Regions from separate parts of the Homo sapiens genome. Here region 1 is linked to region 2. Evidence: fine-mapped expression QTL. A gene starts in region 2. The other region holds a variant in brackets. All regions are shown on one strand. Distances are between the middles of the regions.

What was found. PIP is the estimated chance that this variant, and not a neighbour inherited with it, causes the effect.
Region 1: its variant is the best candidate, but not a certain one, in a credible set for the expression of PPP1R13L in whole blood (INTERVAL, PIP 0.72).

The regions. Positions count from the first base shown.
Region 1 is chr19:45,375,074-45,379,588 of GRCh38, forward strand. No RefSeq gene overlaps it. Among named protein-coding and RNA genes, the nearest start is that of ERCC2, 6.8 kb to the left of the region's middle. RefSeq lists enhancers at 268-1,105, 1,106-1,944. The variant A/G (reference allele first, on the strand shown) is at 2,605.
Region 2 is chr19:45,403,093-45,407,092 of GRCh38, forward strand. It overlaps PPP1R13L (protein phosphatase 1 regulatory subunit 13 like), which reads right to left and starts at 1,977. Exons shown (of 13, transcript NM_006663.4): 1 at 1,907-1,977. POLR1G (RNA polymerase I subunit G) reads left to right here and starts at 3,552. Exons shown (of 3, transcript NM_012099.3): 1 at 3,552-3,626. The coding sequence starts at 3,605. RefSeq lists enhancers at 1,863-2,658, 2,629-2,828.

The DNA of each region.
Region 1 (4,515 bases), 28 kb before region 2:
GAGAAAGAGAGAAAGGATGGAAGGACCCTGACAAGCACTGTTGCATAAAAGTTTCTTTTCTCTCTCTTTTTTTTTTTTTTTTTTTTTTGAGACAGGGTCTCACTTCTGTTGCTCCAGCTGAAGTGCAGTGGTGAGAACATGGCTCAGTGCAGCCTCAACTTCCCAGGCTTAAGTGATCCTGCCACCTCAGCCTCCTGAGTAGCTGGGACTGTAGGTGTGCACCACCGTGCCTAGCTAATTTTTTGTATTTTTAGTAGAGACATGGTTCCGCCACGTTGCCCAGGCTGGTCTTGAACTCCTGGGCTTAAGGGATCTGCCCGCCATGGCCTCCCAAAGTGCTGGGATTACCAGCGTGAGCCACTGTACCCAGCCTGAGTATAGGTTTCTGATAAATTTTAGGATCATATTGTTTGGACTGGGTAAGAATTTCCAGAACTCTAATGAAGAAACTGACTGGTTTATATTTTATTTTATTTTATTTTATTATTTTTGAGATGGATTTTCACTCTTGTTGCCCAAGCTGGATTGCAGTGGCACGATCTTGGCTCACCACAACCTCCGCCTCCCGGTTTCAAGTGATTCTCCTGCCTCAGCCTCCCCAGGAGCTGGGATTACAGGCACCCACCACCATGCTCGGCTATTTTTTTTTTTATTTTTTTATTTTTAGTAGAGACGGGGTTTCACCATGTTGGCCAGGCTGGTCTCGAACTCCTGACCTCAGGTGATCCACCTGCCTTGGCCTCCCAAAGCGCTGGGATTACAGGCATGAGCCACTGTGCAAGGCCTAGGCTGGTTTATAAAATTGCTAAACCAAGCAGAACATGAATTAAATACCAAGGAAATACTCTCCTAGATTGTCATGTTACATCAGCCAATACTAAAATTGTCAAGATACACAATTTGAATGAACTCCATGGTCCAAGTCGAATTATCTATGATATTACCCATCTAATAAACAGCACTATGTCCCTTAATGGGAGAAAAAGTTGGAGAATTTAAGAGAATATCAATCCAATGTTGGTTGGGTGCAGTGAATCATGTCTATATTCCCAGCACTTTGGGAGGCCAAGGCAGGAGGATCACTTGAGCCCAGGAATTCAAGGCCAGCCTCGGCAACACGGTGAGATCCTGTCTCTACGGAAAATTAAAAAAAAAAAAAGAGAGAGATTAGTGGGATGTGGTGCCTATAGTCCCAGCTACTTGGGAGGCTGAGGCGGGAGGATCATTTAAGCCTGGGACGTTGAGGTTGCAGTGAACCATGAGTGAGACTCATCTCAAAAAAAAAAAAAAAATGGCGATCACTAGAGGAAAAAAAAACTAAAGTGGGGTTTGCGGGTAGTGGGAGGGCCCTTCCTGCTAGGTTGCACTATGATCTCCAGGGAGGCTCCACGGGAGAATCATTTCCTTGTCTTTTTCAGTTTCTAGAGCCAAATTCTTTGCATACCTTGCATTCCTTGGCTCGGAACCCCTTCCCTAACCTTCAAAGCTGGCAGCTAGCCTCTGGCTCAAGTGTCACATGGCCTGTCTCTGTCTTCCTATCCAATCTTCCTCTTATAAGAACATTGGAGCCAGGCATGGTGGCTGACGCCTGTAATCCCAGCACTTTGGGAGACCGAGGCAGGCGGATCACAAGGTCAGGAGTTCGAGACCAGCCTGGCCAACACAGTGAAACCCCGTCTCTACTAAAAAAATACAAAAAAGTAGCCGGGCATGGTGGCAGGTGCCTGTAATCCCAGCTACTTGAGAGGCTGAGGCAGGAGAATCGCTTGAACCTGGGAGGCAGAGGTTGCAGTGAGACGAGATCGTGCCACTGCACTCCAGCCTGGGTGACAATGCAAGACTCCATCTCAAAAAAAAAAAAAAAAAAAGAACACTGGAGACCAGGTTTAGGGCTCACTCAGATACTCCAGGATTATTGTCTCATTTTCAGATCCTCAAGGTCAGCACAACTGCAACCTCCCTTTTACCATATAAGGTCACATTCACAGATTATGAATTTGACAAACCAAAAATTGGTCATAAACTATGTTAGCAATTTGGAAACAGTCATCATAGCAATATATTTCATTTGAATCATTATCTCTCTCATGATGAATCACGGAGTGCAGAGGTTTGGTTTTATTTATTATTTTTCTTTTTCTTTTTTTTTGAGACGGAGTCTCGCTCTGTCACCCAGGATGGAGTGCAGTGGCGCGATCTCAGCTCACTGCAACCTCCACCTCCTGGGTTCAAGCAATTCTCCTGCCTCAGCCTCCTGAGTAGCTGAGATTACAGACGCCCACCACCACGCCCGGCTAATTTTTTGTATTTTTAGTAGAGATGGGGTTTCACCATCTTGGCCAGGCTGGTCTTGAACTCCTGACCTCATGATCCACCTGCCTGGGCCTCCCAAAGTGTTGGGATTACAGGCGTGAGCTATGGCTCCTGGTCTTTATTTATTTTTCATTTTTAAAAATTATTTTGAGGCCAGGCGCGGCGGCTCACGCCTGTAATCCCAGCACTTTGGGAGGCCGAGGCAGGCGGATCATGACGTCAGGAGATCAAGACCATCTTGGCTAACACAGTGAAACTCCATCTCTACTAAAAATACAAAAAATTAGCCGG[A/G]CGCCATGGCGGGAGCCTGTAGCCCCAGCTACTCGGGAGGCTGAGGCAGGAGAATGGCATGAACCCAGGAGGCGGAGCTTGCAGTGAGCCGAGATAGTGCCAATGCAGTCCGGCCTGGGCGAAACAGCGAGACTCCGTCGCAAAAAAAAAAAAATAATAATAAATAATAAATAAAAATAAAAATAAAATAAAAAAATAAAAATAATAAAATAAATAAAAATTATTTTGAGACAAAGTCTATTCTGTGGCAGAGGCTGGAATGCAGTGGCGTGATCACAGCTTACTGCAGCTTCTACCTCCTGAGCTCAAGCGATCCTTCCACCTTGGCTTCCTGAGTAGCTGGGACCTCAGGTGTACATTACCACGCTCAGCTAATTATTTATTTATTTATTATATTTTTGTGACGGAGTTTCGCTCTTGTTGCCCGGGCTGGAGTGCAATGGTGCTATCTCAGCTCACTGCAACCTCTGCCTCCTGGATTCCAGTGATTCTCCTGTCTCAGCTTCCTGAGTAGCTGGGATTACAGGTACATGCCATCACGCCCAGCTAATTTTTGTATTTTTAGTAGAGACGGGGTTTCATCATATTGGTCAGGCTGGTCTCGAACTCCTGACCTCAGGTGATCCACCTGCCTTGGCCTCCCAAAGTGCTGGGATTACAGGCGTGAGGCACCACGCCCGGCAATTTTTTTTTTCTTTTTTTTTTTTCAGACAGAGTCTTGCTCTGTCACCCAGGCTGGAGTGCAGTAGCGTGATCTCGGTTTACTGCAACCTCCATCTCCCGGGTTCAAGCGATTCTCCTTTCTCAGCCTCCCAAGTAGCTGGGACTACAGGTGCACACCACCACGGCGGGCTAATTTTTGTATTTTTAGTAGACACCAGGTTTCACCATATTGGTCAGACTGGTCTCAAACTCCTGACCTCAGGTGATCCATCTGCCTCAGCCTCCCAAATTGCTGGGATTACAAGCGTGAGCCACACACCTGGCTTAATTTTTTTATTTTTGATCGACACAGGGTCTCCCTATGTTGTCCAAGCTGGCAGAGATTTTTGTTTGTTTGTTTGAGAGGGAATTTTGCTCTTGTAGCCCAGGCTGGAGTACAATGGTGCAATCTTGGCTCACCACAACTTCCGCCTCCCGGGTTTAACAGATTCTCCTGCCTCAGCCTCCCAAGTAGCTGGAACTACAGGCACCTACCACCACACCAGGCTAATTTTTGTGCTTTTTAGTAGAGATGAGGTTTCACCATGTTGGCCAGGCTGGTCTTAAACTCCTGGCCTCCAGTGATCCACCCGCCTTGACCTCCCAAAGTGCTGAAATTACAGGCGTGAGCCACCGCGCCTGGCCTCTCAACCTACAATTTCAACACCCAAGGAAACAGCCCACCATGAGTGAGAACCAGCAGACACAACAAACTATAGGATTAGCTGCCTCCAAACTTCAGGTGATAGAATTATCAGGCATGTACTTGAAACTAAAGGACACAAAAGAAGAATCCGAAATATAAAATAAAGGATTGGACTTGTGTGAAAAGAATCCCTTAGAAAGGGCTACTTTCAGGCTGGCCATGGTGGCTAATGGCCTGTAATCCCAGCACTTTGGAAGGCCGAGGTGTGTGGATCACCTGAGGTCAAGAGTTCAAGACCAGCCTGGCCAACATGGTGAAACCCCGTCTCTACTGAAAATACAAAAATTAGCCAGGTGGGGTGGCAGATGCCTGTAATCCCAGCTACTCGGGAGGCTGAGGCAGGAGAATCGCTTGAACTCAGGAGGCAGAGGTTGCAGTGAGCTGAGATTGCGCTATCGTGCCCCAGCCTGGGCACTAGAGTGAGATCAAAAAAAAAAAAAAAAAAAGAAGAAGAAGAAGAAAGGGCTACTTTCAGACTGCCTTGCCAAAAATCATAACCACAA
Region 2 (4,000 bases):
TTCCTCATGTGGACCATGGGAAGAATTAATACCTTCGCCTCAAAGGGGTATGAGGATTGAGTGACATAATTTATAAGCCGTGATTAGAACAATGCAGTGCGCGAAATAAAGTTCACACATACAGGATTCATAATTACCAGATGTCCTTGGCTGTTCATTATAATAACACAGGGTCTGGCAACAGAGTGAGGGGTCCAGACTCAATGTAATTTTTTTTTCCCCTAAAAGGGCCCTTTCAACTCTTTCTGAGATCATACAAGCCCTGAGTTTTGACACCCAGGGTCTCAACTTCCTGAGCCCTTGCCTCTCAGAGTCCTAAATTTCCCCTGTACATTCCTGAGTCTGGCCAGTGATCACCCTCAGTCACTTAGGGACGGGAGGGCTGGGAGAGCCCTGGAAGATTCCAGACAGAAGCTGGCAAAAGCCCAGGGTGTGGGCAATATCCACTCTCCAGCCTCCGTTTCTCCACTCGTAATGAGGAGTCCTTCCCTGGGGTCAGCAAACCTTATTCAAAGGGAGACCTCTCAGTCACCCAAGATTCCTCTAGACAATGCGAGCTTTCCTACCTACCTACCTACCAGCTCTGAGCTTGGTACACCCAGAGCCCTGTTTTGGCAACCACGGTTATTATTTTTAATTTCATTTCAGGTTATCATCAAATGCCCTTCAAGCCCAGACATTGGGAAACACTCCTCTCTCATCAGATGCTCGCCTCCCCCATTCTGTTTTTAATCCCCCTTCTTAGGACGCATGGGGGTGGAGAGAACGGGGAGATAGACAGAGGGAGGTGCCTGGTCCTGCCCTCCCCCCGCCTCAAGGACAGACAGACACCTCCAGAATTAGCCTCTGTCCCTCCCTTATCTCCCACAATACCCCAGGTCAGACAGATGGGCGTGGAGGTGACATTTCTCACCTCAGGGTCAGGGCAAGGAGCCCTGAGGCAGAAGGTTAGTCAGAAAATCTGGCGGGGGCGGATGGAATCCCGTCCCCCAGAGAGCTGCAGAAGAAGGAGGAGGCAGAATCCTGACCCTACAAACTCTACTGCCTGTGTGAGCTCCAAGCCTCAGTTTACCCCTTCCTCTCCGTGTAATGGTTAAATGCCCGGCTATGCAAACCTCCCAGAATCCAATAGCCGCTTTCCGGAATTCTGCCCTGGGTTCTAGAACTACCTCTGCAAACCCAGCTGTTTCCCACCCCATAAGGCAATAGGGGAGCCCACCTCCGCCAGGGGGTGCCCTAGGGCGGATGTCCCTTCTCTGGTTAGGCAGGTCTGACGCCCAGGTTAATGACATGTTGGGTTCGCTCAGCGGCACAGAGGAGGTTGGAGATCTGCCTCGGTGTTTTCTCTCCTACCCCGCCCCCATCCCCGAGCCGAAAAGTCGGGGGAGAGCCGGGACACAGCCTCCGGAGGGACCCCGGGTACCTGTCCTGCTCCACTTCAGGAACCCAGGCTCCACTATCCCTGCCCCACCCTTAATTCTGCTCAGAGACCTAGAAGATCGGTCGAGACAGCAGCTTGAGGCTGGCAGGGTGGTCACCCATTCCACCTTGAGCCCCACCAGTCTGAGCCTCTCATTTCTGACCAAGACTCGGGGATTCGAACCCCTATACTACCCAAAGACTCGGCTTCCTAGAGCCCCCCAGTTCGAGGGACTCAGGAATTCCAGCTCCAACGTCTCCCCGGGATGAAGGGGTAGAATCCCTCCATTCCAAGAATTCAGGCATCCGAACCCGCTTTCCTTCCCTCCAGTAAAACAGGCAACGGAGTTTCCTTCTAAGGATCCAGGTGTCGGCGCGCCCCAAATTCCGCCCTGGGACCTGGCGTCCGAGTCCCCTCCCAATCCTCCCAGGGACGCGGGTGTTGGGCTTTTTCAGGGCCTCTGGTCCCCAGGAGGGTGAAACTCACGGATCCGGGCAGATCCTGGCACCTGGGGGCTTCCTCCAGCTCGGGCTCCGGCTTGGGGAGCGGAGAACGGGGCGGGGCAGGAGCTGGGAACAGGTTAGACGACGTGACTTGGGCTGGAGGGAGGCGGGTCCCGGTGGGGAGGGGGAGCCAAGGTCGCCTCGAGCACCTTGGGACTTGTAGTCCCGGAGGGACAGGACGTAGCCCAAGACGATCCCATTTGGATTCACCCAGAGTCCATTTCACAGACAGGAAGGGCGAGGCCCAGAAGCCGAGAGCGACCAGGCCAGGGAGATACAGAAGAGCCGAGACGCCTGCCTCGCTGTGGCTGGAGACTGACTCCTGAGCCCTTGCCCCACCCCTTCAGGCGCACTATCCCCTTTCCTGATCAGTATCCCCCAGGGTCTCTGAGCCCGAATCTCCCCGTCGATAAAAAGCGCGGGTTGGATCTTCAAAGGATGTCCCAGCAAGAGTTCAAAATCTTAGTTTGGACTACAACCCCCAGCAGCCTCCGCGACCGCCCTCGGGCGACTCTTTGCCTCGGGTCCTGTGGGAATTGTAGTCCTGGAGCCCGCAGGGGCTGCACCCCGGTGTCTCTCTCGCCCACGCGAAGGAAACCGTCTGGAGATCCTGGATAGGGGAAACATTTCCCCTTCCCCTTGACCCTCCCTCCGCTCTGGAAAGCCTCTCCCACCTGGGGAGAAGGGGTGCCCCAATTCTGGAGTAGGATCCTAAATCTTGGCAGAGGGGGCGGGAAGTGGCGCTGACACACTGGCCAGGAATGCAGTCGGGTCACCCTGTCTAGCCACCGTCTCGCGGCTCCAACCGCCGCCCAACGCGGGGCGGCCCCAGTGGGAAGGGAAGTGGGTGCGTCCCCCAAATCTGTGTCCACGTGCCGCTGTTTACACGCTCCCTGGGGCAGGGAGGAGTCGCCGATCAGGTCCCTTCCTGAAAGTCATCGAGGTTTCCCACGCATGAGACTAAACCCCCGAGGGCATCTACAAGTCCCATTTGATCCACAAACGCTACACCGTGCCCAGCACCACTCCACGCGTGTGGGGCTCCTGGGTCCGAGGCTCCGCCCTCGAGAACCACAAGCTCCTCCCCCTATGTTTCCCGCTCCCCCGGAGTCCAGAAGCCCCGCCCCTGGCTGGAACTTCACGCCCTCCGGACGGATTGCCCCTATTTCTCCATTTTCCCGCTTCTCCCAGTCAAGTTCTGAACTTGTGAGGCATCTGGGCCTCCCCAGAAGACATTTAACACAGAAAGCACAGCCCTACTAACTAGTATTCTTACCTGTCTCTTCAAGAATTTCAGACCAATCGACCGTCCTGTCTCTTTAAGGCTTAGGAAGAGCAGTGTGGCTGCCCCTTTAAGGAGGCGTTGCAACAAACCATATTGGACAGACGATGGGGGCGACCCATCGGGACCCGACGGGCCTCTGACTCCAGCAATACAGCGAATCAGCGGCTTTCGGGAATACATTTTTCGGAAAAAGACTTCTTCCTCGGTTTTCTGCTCTGCACACGTTGAAATTTTCCCCAGTTTTTCCTGCAGATCGGGAGTCGAGCAATGCCTACCCCCGCGCTCCCGCACCAGTTGGGCGCTCCCGGATGATGCCCTACCCCTTTGGATCCACGTGGTCTGCAACCTGGTGCGAGCAGCCCGGGCTACAGGGTTGCCTGAGGTGTGGGTCCCAGGATGGAGGAGCCCCAGGCCGGCGGTGAGGGTGCGGGTTGACGGGGTGCGGAGGGTGCGTTGGTGGAAGGAGAAAGGGGCGTCCGAGAGGGTTCGGGCGGAAAAGGAGGCGTACCTGCAAGCAGGACTTGCGAAGAGCGTGCATTCCCAGTGGGCGAACGGGAATTCGAACGGAGAGAGGGTTATCTTGTGGGGGGCTACCCGTGGAGAGCAAGGCGCCCCCAGGGGTTGGATCGGTGAAATTGAGGTCGCCCCTGGGGAACAGGTGGGCAGAAAGGAGAAACCAGGTTGAGGGGACTGGAGTGCTCACGAGGTTAAGACCAATGGACCGATAGGCGCGCCCTGCAAGATTGGACCGGCAAGGAGGTGTCAGTCGACCCCATTTCCCCTTCTGCTGCA